Linked DNA regions of Homo sapiens. The protein of the gene in region 1 purifies or fractionates together with the protein of each later gene. This does not show direct contact. Each region holds a gene or a part of one and is shown on either strand. Other genes may lie near its edges. The genes, in order: DACT3, SLC38A2 and KCTD3.

The links.
Region 2: the proteins of DACT3 (region 1) and SLC38A2 purify together in Homo sapiens (affinity purification with mass spectrometry; one large-scale study listed by BioGRID and IntAct). This does not show direct contact.
Region 3: the proteins of DACT3 (region 1) and KCTD3 purify together in Homo sapiens (affinity purification with mass spectrometry, with the first as the bait; one large-scale study listed by BioGRID). This does not show direct contact.

Annotation. Positions count from the first base shown.
Region 1 is NC_000019.10:46,646,962-46,651,242, forward strand, and holds the end of DACT3 (dapper homolog 3), read right to left. Parts: intron 2,912-4,281; coding exon 1,521-2,911; 3' UTR 590-1,520; downstream 1-589. UniProt on the Homo sapiens protein: May be involved in regulation of intracellular signaling pathways during development. Specifically thought to play a role in canonical and/or non-canonical Wnt signaling pathways through interaction with DSH (Dishevelled) family proteins.
Region 2 is NC_000012.12:46,362,728-46,366,376, forward strand, and holds part of SLC38A2 (sodium-coupled neutral amino acid symporter 2), read right to left. Parts: intron 2,463-3,649; coding exon 2,380-2,462; intron 1,976-2,379; coding exon 1,917-1,975; intron 1,830-1,916; coding exon 1,662-1,829; intron 1,277-1,661; coding exon 1,197-1,276; intron 1,100-1,196; coding exon 999-1,099; intron 419-998; coding exon 294-418; intron 1-293. UniProt on the Homo sapiens protein: Symporter that cotransports neutral amino acids and sodium ions from the extracellular to the intracellular side of the cell membrane.
Region 3 is NC_000001.11:215,580,716-215,584,364, reverse strand, and holds part of KCTD3 (BTB/POZ domain-containing protein KCTD3), read right to left. Parts: intron 1-3,649. UniProt on the Homo sapiens protein: Accessory subunit of potassium/sodium hyperpolarization-activated cyclic nucleotide-gated channel 3 (HCN3) up-regulating its cell-surface expression and current density without affecting its voltage dependence and kinetics.

The DNA.
Region 1 (4,281 bases):
TTTATATAGTTATTTAGATTCATATATATATGCAAACACATAAACATGGGAGGATGCACATCGAACTGCTGATTATGATGACCGTCAGAGAGGGGATTTAGGGGCTGTCTGTTTCCCATGCTGTTCCCATTTTTGTGAAACCATATTTTTTTGTTTTTTGAGACAGGGTCTTGCTTGTCATCCACGCTGGCGTGCAGTGACACAATCATGGCTCACTGCAGCCTGGGCCTCCCAGACTCACATGATTCTCCCACCTCAGCCTCCTGAGCAGCTGATAGTTCAGGAATGACCTACCACACCCAGCTAATTTTTGTATTTTCTGTAGAGATGGGGTTTTACCATGTTGCCCAAGCTGGTCTTGAACTCCTGGGCTCAAGATATCCCCCTACCCCTGCCTCCCAAAGTGCTGGGATTATAGGCATGAGCCATCACATCCCGCCTGAAATCGTATTTATAACCAAACATAACCCAATCAAAGGTTAGATTCCTTGATGTAAAATAGCCAATGGTAGGAAGATGATGTTGAGATTCACCCTGGGACCTCCCTGGAAACTGCCATATCCACAGCAAACAGAAGTTGCTCAATAAATGTTAGTCCAAAGGAAAAAGAGCATTTCTCCCATTTAATCATTCAGTGAGAGTCCACCACATATGTTACACTGTGCATTTATTTACAAAGAGGTTAGAGAAACACACAGAATCTGGCCCCCCTTTGCACTGGGGAGTCACCATCGTCATAATAAATACAGTAATTTTAAAAAAGAAAAAAAATACTAGATTGGAACAGCTGAGGGTCATCAGGCTTCCCCCATTCCCTCTCACAGGGAGTGGGGGTCATGAGATAGAAACCATCTTCCTTCCCCTCTTCTACCTCCGAATCCTCCATAATTGTCCAGGGATCGAAGTGAAAGAGTCCTTCTTTCCAGGTGTTACCAACCCCTACTTGACCCTCAAAACCCCCAAATCAGTGCTCCTTCCCTTCCCAGGGCACTCTGCAGGGACCACCTGAGTCAGACACAGAGTCTCTGACCAGGGTGCCAAGGGGATATCTTAAGGGTCCAGGGACATGGAGGGGGCACTTTGTGAATGAGAGGGGGCCATAGCTGGGCAAGGAAAGGAGGAATGAGAGGGCTCATCAGGAATGAGAGGGAGAGCGGTGGAGGGGAACAAACAGACTAGGCTTCTAAACTAAAACGGGGAAATTCAAACCGAATTACCCCTTTTGCATACATGGACACTTACTGTACAGATGAGGAAAGTGACGCCCAGAGAAGGGGAACTGTCTTGCCCAAGGGCTTCCAAGCTAGAAGCTGAACTGGGTCAAACAGGGCTCCTCCCCATTCCTCTCGGTGGTGGTGGGGGAGCCTTTTCAACCAAGACTGTTAGGAGTGGGGAGAGTGAGGGGGGTCTTTGGAAGCAGAGAAAACGATGGTCTTTGGAAGGTAGATGTGGAAGGGTCAGTGGTTGGGAGTGTGGAGGTGCAGAGGCCATGAAGGGGGAGCCCAAGCAAATCCCCAAACTCACACTGTAGTCATGACCTTGAGAGAACCCGAACGGAAACGCAGTATCTTTTTCTTGAGCGCGTGGGAAGCTTTGATTTTCACGAAGACTTTGGCGGGGCCTGCGGGCGCCCCTGCACCTGCTCCACCCCCAGAGGCCGCGGTGGCCGCCACCAGCTGCTGCGGCCACACGAGGCCACCGCTGCCGTCTGAGTCGCTGGAGGCAGAGCTGAAGGCAGGCGATTCTCCCTCGCTGGCGCTCGATTCGCTCTCCCCGTAACCCCCGCCGACGCCTCCCGCAGGCCCCCGGCGTCCCAGGGGCCCCAGGCGCCCAGCCGAGCACTCGGAGTCGCTGCCCGCGCAGCCGTAAAGCAGACGACGCTGGGGAGCTGACGGGGACGGGCCGGGGCCGGGAACACGCGCCGCAGGGGCTCGGGGCCGCACGCGGCGCCCATCGGCAGCGTCGATCTCCGCAGTGGAGCGCCAGCGACGGCAGGACCCTGCGGCCTGGGCCGCCAGCGTGGGCGCTGGGCCGCGGCGTGGCCGTGGAGGCCGAGGCTCTTCCCGCTCCGCCGTGGGGTACTTAGGGGGCCCCGAAGGGACCGCGGAGGCGCGGCCCAGCAGGCTGGTCTCAGACTGGGAGCGCGAGGCCTTGCGGGCCCTGGGCGAGCCGCGGCGGCCCGAAGCCTCGGCCATGCGTCCACGGCGGCCGGCGGCCCGGGGACGCTCCCGGGGTGGTGACTGCTCCACGCTGCGGCCGCGGGTCAGTGGCGGCGGTTTGCGGCGGGCGGCGCGGCCAGGGAGGCCTCGGGTGGCCGCCTGCGCGCCCGGGATGTACTGCGCCTTCACCAAGCGGCCCTCAGCCGGGCTGTCGGGGGGTGAGGGGGCGGCGGGCGGCGCAGCGGGCTCGGGTGCCGCCTCCGACTCCCACGACGACGCCCAGGCGCGGCTCAAGGCGGCAGGGCTGGTGGGGTGGCCCCCGACGCGCTCCAACGAGGGCTCCCGCGCGGGTCGCGCGCTGCCGGGGGACGGAGACGCGTCGGGCGGCCGCTGGCGCACGCTGTTCTGGCGCCGCGGGCCGCCGTCCGCGCCCCCGGGACTGGTCCGGGGCTGGCCCGCCCCCCGGCGGCGGCGCCTGCGCAGGAGCGCCGAGATGTAGCCGTCCAGGGGCCGCCCTGCGCCCCCCGCGTCGGGCGAGTCGGTGGGAGGGCGGCCGCAGGGCCGCGGGCTGCGCATCGCCACGGCGTGCAGGGGGCTGGGCGTCAGAAAGGGCCCGGCGCGGGCCCGCCGCTCCGCCGAGGAGCAGGCCTCCGGGCCGGCGGACCCCCCTGCCGTCGGGTAGGGCGCTGAGAAGGACCGCGGCACCGCTGCCCGCGCGCCCACCACCTCCGGAGCGCTGGGACTGGCGTCTCCTAGGGAAGGAAGGCCAAAAAAAAAAAAAAAAGAGAGAGTGGAGGGGCTCTCAAAGTCCTTTCCCATTTCTCATCCAGCCCGGAAGGGGCGGGTTGCCTCCCTCCCTTCCATCCTCATCGCAGCAAAAACCCTGCTCTCACACCTTCCTTCTTGTAAAATTCATAATAAAATCTTTACAGGGTCCTACAAGACCCTGCGTGACTTGTCCTGCCTCTGCCTCTGCCTCTCCAACTCTCACAACATCTTACCCCCTATTTTTTTTTTTTTTTTTTTTTTGAGACGGAGTCTCGTTCTGTCGCCCAGGCTGGAGTGCAGTAGCCCGATCTCGGCTCACTGCAAGCTCCGCCTCCCGGGTTCATGCCATTCTCCTCCTGAGTGGCTGGGACTACAGGCGCCCGCCACCACGCCCGGCTAATTTTTTTGTATTTTTAGTAGAGACGGGGTTTCACCGTGTTCGCCAGGATGGTCTCGATCTCCTGACCTCGTGATCCTCCCGCCTCGGCCTCCCAAAGTGCTGGGATTACAGGTGTGAGCCACTGCGCCTGGCCTTTTTTTTTTAAGACAGGTTCTTGCTTGCTCTGTCACCCAGGCTGGAGTGCAGTGGCGCAATCATAGCTCACTGCAGTTTCCAGCTCCTGGGCTCAAGGGATCCTCTCGCCTTATCTTCCTGAACGGCTGGGACTACAGGAACGCATCACCATGCCCTGCTGATTTTTTTATTTTTTGTAGGGATGGGGTCTCACTGTGTTGCCCAGTCTAGTCTCCAGCTCCCAGGCTCAAATAATCCTCCCGCCTCAGCCTCCTAAAGTGCTGGGATTACAGGCATGAACCACTGAGCTGACCCTTCTCCTCTACTTATAGGACTCCAGCCACACTGGCCTCCTGAAAGCAGGCGCCAGTCACATTCTGGCCTCAGAGCCTTTCTGCTTCCCATTCCAGATTCCAGATGCCCGGAATGCTCTTCCTTCTGGATATCTGCTAGGTCCACTCCCCCACTTAGTTCAGGGCACAACTCAAATGTTACAGTCTCAGTGAAGCCCTCCCCAGCCATATTTTCTAAAATTGCACTTCCCTCCCCAAACTCAAAGGGACACTTCTGAGTCCCTTTCCCCGGCTTATTTCTTGTCATAGCACATGGCATTATTTCGTACCCTAGATATTTTACTTATTTATCCTGGTTTATTTATTTATCTATTTATTTATTTATTTATTTATTTATTTATTTTTTAGACGAAGTCTCGCTCTGTCACCCAGGCTGGAGTGCAGTGGCATGATCTCAGCTCACTGCAATCTCTGCCACCCAGGTTCAAGCGATTCTCCTGCCTCAGCCTCCTGAGTAGCTGGGATTACAGGCACGCGCCACCACGCC
Region 2 (3,649 bases), on another chromosome or scaffold:
GTAACAAGGAATCTATCCAAAATAGTAACTATTTCTAAATAAAACTGTGCCTCTTTCTCTGCTGTTTCCTGAACATCTGAACACTTAAAGATCATTTTATATCTTATGGTGAAAAAAATGTCCCCAGGGTATTTTGAAAATATACACTGTATTTTTAAAAAGCCCCTTCAAAACCACCACCAACTTAGTATTGTTCTACTGGTGTTTCCCTTCTTCCAGAAGATGAAAATCTCACCAATATTCACATGTCTAAAAACTCCTTCCTACTGAAAGCAGAGCAAGTGATTACTTACTGGGAAAATAACTACTGGTACTGTCAGGGTCACAGCCATTAACACAGCCAGACGGACAATGAGAAGAAGAATATCAGTTCCCAAGATAGAAGAGTAGGTATGAAGCAATTCTGACTCAACATGTTCTACAGGGAAAGACCAAAAAAACTTTGATTGGCTGTTTTCATTGGACACCAAGTAGAAAATTTAACAGCAAAATGTGCACCAGTTATTTAGCTACTCACAAAACGACTATAAACTAAGAGGCTAATAAGATTTGTTTGGAATTATAGTTAATGCAATTAAAGTAACATTGAAGGAAAATTTTTCTAAATACCACAGAGATTTAGCCACATGACTCCCATTAAAAACAACAGGAGTTAAGCAGCTAAATCTCCTGGCTTGGCTTGCAATTTGTGTTTGTGTTACATAGTCTGAAGGTGATGGGAGAGGAGACAGGCAATATGAACTCAGAGGCTGGCATATCATACAAATATGCCATCAAATGATTAATGATATTTTCAAACCTGGATTCTAGAAATTACTGATTAAATACACTACAGAAAATTCTAAGCTCTAAATTTAATTTCTCATCACAAATATGAAATATATTAAAACAGACTATTTTTAAAGTGATGGAACTACACATAGAAAACTAGCAGCTTCATTTCAATAAGCGTTTTTTTTTGTTTTTGTTTTTGTTTTGGTAAAGGAGGCGTTACTTACCGTAAAATGTTAGGTATCCAAAGAGGGCGGCAAGCAGATACATGAGAAACATAGCAAAAAATGAAATCTTGGACACATTCATCATTCTTCTACGGCTGCGGCTATGTAATTCAAGAGAAAATTCAAATATATATTTCAGCAGCAGTTACAGCAATTGTCTAATATTTTCTCAAATTTATGTAAAAATGAAATACTCACTCTTTCAGTTCTTCATAGATGGGAAGAACAGCAGGATGACAGACAAATGAAAAGATCAGAATTGGCACAGCATAGACAGTCTGAAAGAAAACGTAAAAATCTACTTAATCTGATGTAACGAACTCATGCTGTCACATTTCCGCAGCATATATTTTATGTAAACAATCTTAGAATCAAAGCCTAAGTTTCCTTTGTGTAATTAGCTTCCATTCTTCTAATCTGTTCATGAAGTATGATCAATATCCTCACTTCTGAATGTGTCAATTATTAGCACCATATGATTATCTCAATTCTCAATCTATTTTCAGATGTAAACCAAAACTTTCTTCACAGTCCTCAATAATTAGCTAATCACATGTTTTCTATAAAGCACCTATTATCCTCCTCCCTTTACCCTGGGAGTGAATAGCTTCCCTCTTTTCTTCCCTAAACTCTTCTTTTGAGAAAATAAGCATATTTAGTTACCTGTGAGTTGAAAATAAAATAGTGAGGTCTGCAAGAGTCATTTTCAGTCACGTTATGTGACAAAGCAGGTACAAGAGCTGTTGGCTGTGTTAAGGTGGTGTTTATTGTTTCGTTAATTATCAAAGCAGCTTCCACAGGACACGGAACCTGAAATTTCTTGCAAATGACCTAAAAATATATTATTTTGCATGTGTTAAACTAAGTGACATGGCAGGGCTTATAAAAAATTTTTTCTAAAAAAAAAATCATACCCACCACAATCAGAAAGAACACCATACACAACAAGGAAAGGCCACTGGTATATCCCAAATATCCTATAAGGAGGGGTGGCAGGAATCAGTATTAGTTTAATGAAACAGATTTAAGGCAAATATCTTTTTCCCACTGAATAACTCAATTCTGCTGGGAAGACTTTAGGCACTAAAGTATGTGTATAGCACTAAATTTCTAATTCTTATGATACTAAATTATAGATTTATTTAAATATACTTGTCATAACCCAAGCTAATAAAAACTATCATTTGCATTATTTCTTACAAAGCACAACATATAGTGTCAATTAAATATTTTGGCTCCTAAATTTTGCATGCTGTAAGTCCCAAAGATATACCTTTCTACTTTCTAGGGCTTTTTCATTCTGATTAATTTCTATTCAGAGAAAGCCCAACTAACTGGTGAGAGGCTCATTTCAATTCTCTTTAGAGATGAGTTTGCTCACCTAAATTTCTAAACAGCGACAAAGGAAGAATGACCACCAATGACACCAACAGAACCAAATAGTTCCCGTTCAGATACCACAATCTAAAGAAAACAGAAACAAGGTCAAAACAGTCACAAATATCCTCTGAAAAATATACACATCTTCTAACAGGACTCATTTCATAGGAATACCATGAAAACAAACACACAAAAAAGACATGTTTGGAAAAAGTTTCCCCTGTTCAAGATAGGAATAACTTTTTAATTTTGTGTGCTAGATGAACATTTACTCAGGTTAGAAGTCGGGTATAAAACAGTGTAACTTTTGTCCCACTACTTGCTCTGGGAAGGCTGCCAGCTGATTCATAACACAAAATGCTTCTCAAAGACTTGATACTAATGCAGGGAACAAAGCTTGTTTGTTAAGCCAGTAATCTTATCTTTAAGCACTTTCAGAAAAATTGTACACCAACTTTGGTACAGCTTTAGCATGTAATTTCTAATGCTGGAAACTAAAAAATTTTAAAACAAGTTTTTTTCCAGATGCGTTAGCAAATATTATTAAATATTTCAATGAGGAAACGTTTTCATAAAATGCACAGGCAAACTGCCCCCCCCATAAAAAAAATTATAAAACTCAGTCCCCCAAACCAGGACTTATTCCAGGTTATCAGAGTATGTTGTGACATCTTGACCCACCTTTAACTCCAAAGACAGCCAAAAATATCCCTTTTGAACTTTAGAAAACATTATGTATATCCTCTAAGCCTTTTTCTTTTTAGGTAAATCATGAATTGCACTGTCTTCTAAATCACTATTTTCAAATTCTAATTGCCTCATGAATTCTGTTCACTTCAGCAGTAAGCACTCTGCAGAACACCAACACTTAAAGATCAGCTTAAAAAATTAAATTTCTAAAGCCACATCTGAGATAACAGCACTTCTCTATTTTGACGTAATGAGCTGCACATAGGGTGGGAAGTAAATTATCCTTCCCCATGTTTACTTTAGATAAATACCTGTGAGTTCACTGGGATGAGTAACTTTGCTAGAAGAAAATGGTTTCTATAGCATGCCCAAACATTTTCTGGCACATGTTGAGTATCCCTTATTCAAAATGCTTGGGACCGAAGTGTTTTGGACTTTGGAGTACCTGCACATACATATTTGAAGTATCTTGGAGATGGCACTGAAGTCTAAACACAAAATTCACTTATGTTTCCTATACACCTTCTTAAACCCATAGCCTAAAGGTGATTTTATACAGTATTTTAATTAATTTTGCACAC
Region 3 (3,649 bases), on another chromosome or scaffold:
AGGCCAAGTATAATAAGACTAAAGCTTATTTTGCAAACAAATCAGTCCTACCATGATTTCTTTAGTAAAAATGAAAGACTGAAAATAGGAAAATTGTTTCAAAAACTATGGTATGCTTTTTATTAGATTTGTCTCATCAGTAGTTTTTGAGTTCTTTCTGCAATTTGGACTCATCCTGCTTATCCTTGTGGACCAAGCAGTGATCTGTGGCTGCTGTTCAGAAGAAACAAGAGGCATGGGTAACACAGAAATCTGGATCAGTATTCTAATTGTGGGCATGTATTGGAATTGGCTAGCACATCAGCTTGGTTCCAACTCCATATCAGCTTGGTTACAACAATTTCCCAGTTCATGAAAAGCCTTCTTATTTAGTTTACTTGGGATAATTTTACTTATTTTGCCTTGTTATTGTAGAATATACTGCTGTTGTTCTCTTTGTGTAGGAATGCAAGATAAGCTTACTCAGTGCTTTCTTAAATCGAACACTTATTAATTTTTCAGTCATCACTTTTTGTCAGAAATCAGAGTTCTCACCATACTGACAGTTTCTAACTGAGCTCTCCTCTACTCTGAATGCAGAAGACCCTAATAGGCAGAAATACCATCATCCCTATTCAGACTGCAGAAGTTACAGAAGATGAATCTTCCTCCCTCTGAAACCCTTAGGATTAAGAGTACCCTTGTAAAAGGGAAGGGGAAAACATGTCAGAGGTGTTCAAACCAGAGTTGAATGGGGACTGAGTAAAATAAGGCTGAGACCTGCTGGGCTGCATTCCCAGGAGGTTAGGCATTCTTAGTCACAGCGTAACAAGGAAGGTCAGCACAAGGTAAAGGTCACAAAGATCCCGCTGACAAAACAGGACGGAGTAAAGAAGCCAGCCAAAACTGAAACCAAGATGGCAACAAAAGTGACCTCTGGTCGTCCTCACTGCTCATTATACGCTAATTATAATGCATTATCATGCTAAAAGACACTCTCACCAGCCCCATGATAGTTTACAAATGACATCTAATGTCTGGAAGTTACCCTATATGGTCTAAAAAGGGGAGGAACATTCAGTTCTGGGAATTGCCTGCTCCTTTCTGAAACACTCATGAATAATCCACCCCTTATTTAGTATATAATCAAGAAATAACTGTAAGTATACTCAGTCAAGCAGCCCTCAGGGCTGCTCTGGCTATGGAGTAGCCATTCTTTTATTCCTTTACTTTCTTAATAAACTTGGATTCACTTAAAAAAAAAAACTATATAATCTCATCTTTTACAGACATATTACTTCTAAGTTGTTTTTCTCTATAGTAATTAGGGTATTACACAATAAAGAGATGTCAAAAAAGGATAAAAGAATCAGGACAGCATATTTAAAAATAACTATAACAACTACAGAATTTAACTCTTAATAAGATATGTGAATTTACCTGTTTTTTAAAAAATTACAAAGAAGGTACATATTTGCTCTATAACTTTCCATACAAGTAATACATTTAAAATATGTAGAACAAGGCCAGGCACAGTGGCTCACGCCTGGAATCCCAGCACTTTGGAAGGCTGAGGCGGGTGAATCACTTGAGATCAGGAGTTTGAAAACAGTCTGGCCAACATGGTGAAACCCCGTCTCTACTAAAAATACAAAAATTGGCCAGGTGTGGTGGTGCACACCTGTAGTCCCAGCTACTCAGGAGGCTGAGGTGGGAGAATTGCTTGAACCCAGGAGGCAGGTGTTGCAGTGACCCGAGATCACGCCACTGCACTCTAGCCTGGGTGACAGTGCAAGACTCTGTCTCAAAATCTCAAAAACAAAACAAAACAAAAAATATATAATAATAAATAAAACAAAATATAAAACAAGAATATGCTCTGTTATTTCACCTCTCCATCATCTTACTGCTGCCTAGTGAACCAACCCTCTGGTTAAGACAGCTATGCGAAGAATAGAGTTACGTCTAGTTATTTCCTACATGAAGACCTCAATAAAATACAGTAGAGAGGACATGCCCTGTGAGATTTTGAAACTTATTATGAACATACTTCACCTCAAGTTGTATGAGAATAGACATATGTCTTAAGGAAATGAGAGAACTGAAAAACAGATCCAAGTATATACACACACATAAAGCAAGATAAAATGGGCTATCAGATTCACTGACAAAGAATGATTTACGTAATAAATTGTCAGAACATAATTACCTACCCACTGAGAAGAAAATAAATCCTTAAATCTCATACCACATACAAAAAAGTAAACTCCACAAGGATTAAAGATCTAAAGTGGAATATAAGCCCCAAGGGGGCAGCAATTCACACAACTACTCTTCGTTAATAGAAGTAACACTGTCATAAACTCAGCAAGAAAAAGGGACATAAACATAAAACCTAACCATGTAGAAAATTAGTGAAGCTAGGAGAACATCATACAGGTCTTCACTGTACTACTCTTTTTTTAAAGGTTTTGTAACTTACTGATACAAAAACTTGAGGAAAAATAACTTGTAAAAAAGATTACACTTTTAAACAGTTTAAATATTTTTCTTTCTTTTGAAATCTTTTTATTGCCATTGTGTTGAATGATTTAACTATATGTGAGGAAATCCAAATATGTCCTCAATTGTCTTCCTTCGTCACTTTACATGAGTATATTGCTCTGAAATGTCAGACACTTGGTGAAAGCACAGAAAGATCGTGATCAATGCAAACGCAAAGACTGGAAAATGTAATAGCATCATCCTCCATACAATTATTACCCAGTGAGTTAAATTTTGCGTAATAATGTGGTGGTTCTGGAAAAGAGCAATCTTTAGTATTGTGTACAGTAACAAAACGGAAGTTATGCTGTTACACTTGGATCACTTATCATTTCACAATTCTTCTGGAATTCCTTATTGACAAAAATATGTACATAATATGTAAACAAGGGTCTACAAGTCACCTCAATTCAAATATATAAGATGATAAATTCAAAACAATGCTTCCTAAAAAAAAATTACTTTACCAAATTAGTCTTGCCTCATACAAAACCATCCCCAAAGAAATTATGCAAAAAACAATTTCCATGCTATTTCATAATTAAAATTACAAATCCACAAAACACTTTTTTTAAAAATTTGTTTATTTATTTATTGAGACAGAGTCTTGCTCTGTTGCGCAGGTTGGAGTACAATGGTGAGCTATCAGCTCACTGCAACCCCCACCTCCTGGGTTCAAGTGATTCTCCTGCCTCAGCCTCCCGAGTAGCTGGGATTACAGGCATGCATCACCACACCTGGCTAATTTTTGTATCTTCAGTAGAGATGGGGTTTCACCATGTTGGTCGGGCTGATCTTGAACTCCACCCATCTCGGCCTCCCAAAGTGCTGGGATTACAGGCGTGACCCACCGTGCCCAGCCAAAACACTCTTAAAACATAAAAGTCTGCACTTAATCATTACTACAAGGAAAATATAAACCTGAGATTACTGATATAAACAGCACTTACCAGACATGCCAAACCTTTCATAAATTCAGATTTTTAAAAAAAAAATACATCTGGGATTCTTTAAACTATATCTGTAAACTTTAGAAGACATTTTAGATATTTTTCAGCTTATTGTGACTATTTTTCTTAACCGAACTCAACAGTGATAAACAAATAGTTTATGTATCTTTGATTTT